Homo sapiens: one gene and its partner. The protein of the gene in region 2 interacts with the protein of the main gene of each other region in a pairwise test. Each region holds a gene or a part of one and is shown on either strand. Other genes may lie near its edges.

Region 1 (3,500 bases), on a different chromosome or scaffold from region 2:
TAGGATTACAGGCCTGTGCTACCACGCCTGGCTAATTTTCATATTTTTAGTAGAAACAAGGTTTCACCACATTGGTCAGGCTGGTCTCAAACTCCTGATCTTAGGTGATCCACCCGCCTAGGCCTCCCAAAGTGCTAGGATTACAGGCATGAGCCACCGCACCCGTCCTAGAGCTAGTAAGTTTTAGGGCAATTTTTTCTGCAGCAACAGATAATACAGAATCTTTATAAACTCTTTGTTGAAATTAATTCCCTTCTTCCTAAACAGTAGCTTCTAGTTTCAACAAAATAAACCCCTCTGAATTCCCAAAATTGCCAGGGGGAGCAGGGGGTGGGAAAAAAGCACAGCACACCCTCTGATCTGAGAGCTTGCTAATTCTTTCATACTCCTAACCACAGAAGACTGTAAAGTGAGAACTGAAAGAGTAACTTATACCTGTTCCAATTATAATAAGGAGGTACAGAATTACTTTATCACCTACAATCAAAAGTTGGTATTAATAAATTACCATCTGGGTTTGTTTCTCCCCATTTAAGAGCTTATTAACCAAGTAGCTTAATAAGAGGTGTTTTTTGCATCTAATTAATAGATATCTTAAAGTTTATGGCTTACATCGTCATTCTAAAAAACTTTTCTTAGTAAATAATAATGCACTTAACAAAAATAAAAGTTGTTTCAGAATTTAGAAAAACGTGGAAAAAAGTCACTCTTAGATCTACTGCCCAAAGGTATTTTTGTTCTATCGTTTTCCAGTTTTTTTCCAGGGTAGAGGTGGCACACTGGTAACCCTTTGTAATCAGACTTCTGAATCTAGTAGTAAACAAGACTGAGGGAGAGGTTATTCAGAGAAATATCTCACATCAGTTCTGAAATTATTCCTATAAGTAATGAGAATATATAATAAAAGAATTTCTTTTTCAGTTTCATTCAGACAGTGCCATGAAAGGCAGCAACCTCCGCAGGTTGACAGGTTCGATACTGTGACTAGTACAATCAGGTATACTTTGCAGAGACAGAATTTTCCTCAGGACTCTGCTATTGAGCTGGGGGCTGTGCCTCAGAGAAGTCCACCCATCCTTTCAAGACTTCCCTTTTCTTAGAGCTAACAGTGATTCATCTTCAGGTAGATGGAACGTCTTCTCACAGTAAATTTTTAAAGAACATGGATTCTGGGGCCTGCATATCTAAGAATGTCTGAGCCACTGCACCCAGTCTTCAACCCCTTTTAAGATTTTTCTTTCCTTAGTCTTGAGCATATGTGAAAAAAAGAAAAACTAAAATAAAATATTTTTTTAAAATCTCCGTCTCAGTAGAAGTCTCTTCTCATTAATTTTCGCTTTTAATCTTAAGACTTAATTTTTCAACTCAAGAACACTTTTTTCTCTTCAGTTGTATCTTCTTCTCCAGCACTTTGGTTTCTTCCCTGGGAATATTTACATACTCACAGACTTGGTCTCTTTGTTTAGAGCTACTAAGTTTTAGGGCGATTTTTTTCTGTAGCAATAGAGAATACAGATGGCCTATTGCCAAGATTTCCTCAAACTACAAGGCTGATAGAACCACACTTGACAATGAAATGGAGGCCCACGTTAGAAGTGCTGAGCCTGCCCTGAAGGTAGATAGCAAGCCCCTGCATCCTTTCTCTACAGTCACCTTGCAGTTCAGAAATGCAAGGCCAGTTTCAGTCAGAAAATCAGGCAGCTACAGGTTGAGGCAGGGTGTGGTTCTATCCTTCTCTTCCCATTGAGCATCATTCAGTTTCTTTTTTCTTTTTTTTTGAGACAGAGTCTCGCTCTGTCGCCCAGGCTCGAGTGCACTCAAGTGCAGTGGTGTGATCTCGGCTCACTGCAAGCTCCGCCTCCCGGGTTCACACCATTCTCCCGCCTCAGCCTCCTGAGTAGCTGGGACTACAGGCGTCCACCACCACGCCAAGGCTAATTTTTTTGTATTTTTAGTAGAGTCGGGGTTTCACCATGTTAGCCAGGATGGTCTCGATCTCCTAACCTTGTGATCCACCTGCCTCGGCCTCCCAAAGTGCCGGGATTACAGGCGTGAGCCACCACGCCCGGCCTGAGTATCTTTCAGTTTCTATTTGGTGGCTCTAACTCCCAGAATACACTTGGATAGGGAAGCTTAGTGTTTTCTGTGTGTATTTGTGTTTGAGGGTAGGAAGCAGTTATAGGGTATTGAGTCCTAGAAAGTATAGTCTTCAAGAACAAAGATTCCAGTTGACATGGGCAGAGAAGTGCATTCTGGAGACAGTACATTCTGGAGACTGCAGTGTTTTCTACACCTTCATTTACGGCACACTCCTGGAATGGGGTCAGAATCAAGCAGTGAGGGTTAGATGATCCTATCTCAGTCCAGCATAGCTGTATGAGATAAAAGCCTCCCAGTAGCACTGGGAGCACTGGGCTAGGGGCTCTGCATATTCTCTTGGCCAGCTGTAGATCTGAGAATGGCAGTTACCTATGTCCACGGGAGTAGAGAAGGGGACCAAGGGTAATCTATGCACCCTTGCTGGCAAATACCAAGAGGCCTTTGAACAAATTCTGCGAAATAAGAGAAAAGGGAATATCATTCTAAAAGTTGAGAGAAAGAATGAATCTTTGAAGATGACTGCCAGTGGGAACCACAAGAATTCAAGTGGGCAGTTGAGGCTACTTACCAGTTAAGACATTACAATGGTGGGAAGTAGACTGTGACTGAAAAGAATCGCAGCATCTCAGTGTTACAAGGGATCTCAGAAGCCTTCAGTTCAACCTTCTCAACTCCACAGCAACTAAGTAAGCGGTCATCAAGCCCATGTTTGAATCCCCCCACCTGATCTAGAAGTTATTACGCATTACATGGTGAAACAATTCACTTCATTTTTACAGAGTCCTAATTTTTAGAATCTTATTTTTTAACCGCAGCAACATTTAACACTCTGTACTCTCTATCCCTGAGTTCTGTCCTGTGGAGCCACACAGAACAATCCCAATATTTCTTTTAAGAGGTAGACTCTTTTACGAGATGGATGTTTCTTTCAAGAGATAGACCTTCAAGTACAATAGTATCATATCGACCTCCCAAGCTGTGTGTTTTAGTTGTCCCTAAGGATACTAGCAGAACTGTGAATATACCCACATAAGCACACTATGCTAGCTATTCGAGAATCTCACATGCAATACTACCAACTGCAACAATGGTAAATATATTCTTGGTCAGCATCCCTACTTACAGAATAGAAAACAGAACACCCCCACCTACCATACATATTCTTTTACACAGCTCCAGGAAACCCTGATTAATGACCTCCACTTGCAAAGGAGGCTACTTACCTTAACCATGAAATAATGAATGCTATTGATCCAACAAGCTACTGCTATAGAGTGTTATTGATCACCCAATCTTTGGTTAAAATGGTCCTCATTTAGCAATTTCACTGTCACAAACACCTGGAGCAAAGCACACTCATAATTAAAGAGTTTGGGGGAGTTAAAGTGAGAGGTGATGGA
Region 2 (3,500 bases):
AACATGGTGAAACCGCGTCTCTACTAAAAATATAAAAATTAGCGGGCGCCTGTAGTCCCAGCTACTCAGGAGGCTGAGGCAGGAGAATCACTTGAACCCGGACAGCAGAGGTTGCAGTGAGTCAAGATTGCGCCACTGCACTCCAGCCTGGGCAACAGAACAAAACTCGGTCTCAAAAAAAAAAAAAGAGTCCTCATTTTATTCTTTATTTTGCTCAATATGCACTCTTCCTGAAAACAGCTTTTCAATGGAGAAGTAGCAGGAGACCCAAGAGAAGAGGAAGTTAGGAGAGGTCCAAGTAAAAGAGGCTGTGGAATGGAAATCTTAAGGGTGGGAAAGGCAACTTGAGCCTCTTACATAACTTGGCTAGAATTCACCTTACATTTCAGGGAAATTTCATGCCGTTTACAATTCTAAGGACAATGATTATTTTAAATCTTTAGTAATTACTTAGGCAAGTTACATTTCCTATAGCAGTATTTGTAATAAAATGCAAACAGGTAGCATAAAATAGATTATTTTCAGATGGTGCATATGCATTACATAATTGTACATTCATTGATAGATGATAAAAATAATAACTGACACTTTACTAAGCCAGACATTGTTCTAATTGCTTTGTGTATATTAACTCAATTTCCTTTTCAGAAACGATGGTAGAGAAAAGTTAAATTTGTGGCCAAGAGGTGACAATAGTAAGAGACACAGCGGGGGTTTAGCCCTAACTATTGTGTTCTCCCAGATATGCTTGCCTCATTTCTTCTTCGGTTGACTCTTAGGGTTGCATCCACCTAACCCTCCGGGGTTCTGGCTTCGGATAGTGTTTGATCAATGGAAGCAACAAAAGAAGATTGGAGGACATGAAGACAGGTTACTGGATGATATTCGACATGAGCTGCAATCCTCCATCTGAGGTCCCAACTTTTCCAGAAGGCTTCTGTCCTGTTGCGCTCATTGGATTCTGGTAAGAGGTCCCTGCATTTACCCTCTCAGGTTAGGGGTGCTAATATATTCCAACTGTGGACAGACCCTGGGGGATTCATCATTTCCTGTGGTTTCCCTACATTCTACTCACCATCAAATTGCCATCATCAAACTCTCTTCAATTATCCCTTTGAGTGTGACATCTATTTCCTTGTCTAATATGATAATTAAGAAATAGGATAAATCTTTTATGATTTATCAACTAATGGCTAAATATGCAAAAGTGTTGCCACTTACTTATACTTTCCTAAACATCTGGGTATTCTAGAAAATAAATTATACAGCTCTACTTCCAGGAGCAAAGAATAGTTCTGGAGGAAAAATTATTTATAATTCCCTGAATTTTGAGTGTGGACATTCACAAGACTGTAATCTTAGAAACATGGGTGGCAGCAAGCCTCCAAATAGGGATGCCTAAACTCTGACTTTCCTGTCATTTTAATATGTCTCAATCATTTTTACATCTACATTCTGTCTAGTTTAATGCATCCAGATCTGTTTATACTTCAAATAAGAAAAAGAAATTCCCACGTAAGCATAGCCTATAGGTGAGAAAATTTTAATTGTTAAAGGCACTACACATACTAAGACCTCATTTTATCTTTGAATAATATTAAATAAGACATCACTTGATTCCAACCTATGCAGTGAGTGCTAAAGCATTATTTATATGGTTCTTTAAATGTGAAAGTTATTTGCTAAATTGCTGTTGTTCTACAAAACCAAGCTAGTCCCCATTACGTTTCGGATAACACATATTTATTTTTCTGAATAGTTTCCTGTTTGTGTTACCTACCAACATAAATCAATGATTTGCAAAATTTGCTTTGCATTCATTGTTAATTTGATAAGAGGCATGCCCATTTAATCTTTTCAACTAATAAGAATACACCTCAGTTTAGTTTGCTAGTTTTTTGGGTGGCTAAGAATAACCATCCAAATGTTTACTGTGCAGTCCAGACAGTGGACAAGCTACCTCAACAGACTCTGAATATATTTCACTACTGCATTTGCAAATAACTATCACTTTGCAAAAATAAGTTTTCATTTGGGTGTCATTTCTGGCAAAAATTTAAGGCTATATTTTCAAAGAGTAAAATTCTAGGCCTTTAAAATTCTACTGGCATCTGCCAACCTAAGCTGGACCCTCCTCTAGGTTTTGCGGAGCCTGACAGATGATTTCACCTTAGTCATTTTCTTGCCCACAGTCACGTAAGATAACTGCGAATTTGTTTTTTCCTTGTAGCATTATGGGATTCTCTTGAAGTGTGTGAAGAATAATGAGCTAAATAAAGAGGAAAAACAAAAGAAAACAAAAACTGCAGGGACTTTTATAACTATCATTGATTGCCAGCTTAAGCCTGCTGGACTCTTCACAAAACTATATATGCTTCAAGCTTAATATTTAATTTTGTAATTGGAACATTTATAATCATATTATGCATTTAATAAGGATGCTCTAATTCAGATTTACTATTATCAGGAAATTAAATTTGGAGTTACAGTAATGCATGCATATATATGTGTGGGTGTGAGTGTGCATATACCTATATATGTATATACATATATAAAGTAAACGCCTTCTTTTAACGTGTGTTTTAAGTATAGCTTCCATGTCCTAGTTAATTCAGCACCCTCCCTTTTATCCTTTCCTTGCCATTGTCCTCTCTACTAGACTACAATAAAAACAAAAAACTATGAAAGTAAGCAGCTTATAATCATAATTTTAATCAATGTAGCCTATGCAAGCTTTAAGAAACATACGTCTAACATCTTAGAAAGAAAGCTTATGAACACAAACAGCAGAATACTTAAATACATTTGAAACATTCACATTGAATTGATTCTACAAAATTTTGAAGAGCAACAGCTTTTGAATTTAGAGCTATAATCAGTACCCTAAAGTTTTTACCACTGAGTTACTACCTAGTAAAAATATGTTATATTTGCAATAAAAGTACACATTGTAAGGACATAAGAATTGTCATCAAGGTACACAAACATTTTAGAATTATTAAACATTTAAATAAATGGAAATTTTAAAAATAAAATAACAATATTATCATACAAGTTAATGATCCAGTTTATTAATTTCTAATTCTATTGATAAAACAAGGGATTATTTTTGAAAGGGTTTTTCTATCTTTCATACAAACCCTTTCCAAAAATGTATAGATACAGTACGGATTCTACCTGATCATTCTTGTGCATATGGTGATGTAAGAAACCAAAAAAATGTAAATTATTTTCATAACACTGTGAAAACCAATATTTAAAAATACAGTGCACAATTAGTAGTGAGTAACATATATAAATTTAGAAATATTATATTTCTGTACACAAAGTAACATTATAAATGAAAGCTTCAGGAATAATGAGCTACTTATTATTCCGGAAATTATATATCAAAAATTTCAAATATAGAGGAAAATTAAAAACCCACTCATGACCCATGAAAATTAATAACCCATTCGATCATACACTTACCATGTAACTTTCTGTTAATTTGGTAATAA

Evidence for each region. The genes of interacting proteins can lie anywhere in the genome.
Region 1: the proteins of MEOX2 (region 2) and GPATCH2L interact in binary tests that used the Homo sapiens proteins (3 or more experiments, as listed by UniProt).

The regions. Positions count from the first base shown.
Region 1 is NC_000014.9:76,158,422-76,161,921, reverse strand, and holds part of GPATCH2L (G patch domain-containing protein 2-like), read right to left. Parts: intron 1-3,500.
Region 2 is NC_000007.14:15,676,684-15,680,183, forward strand, and holds part of MEOX2 (homeobox protein MOX-2), read right to left. Parts: exon of another isoform or gene 2,231-3,500; intron 965-2,230; exon of another isoform or gene 780-964; intron 1-779. UniProt on the Homo sapiens protein: Mesodermal transcription factor that plays a key role in somitogenesis and somitogenesis and limb muscle differentiation. Required during limb development for normal appendicular muscle formation and for the normal regulation of myogenic genes.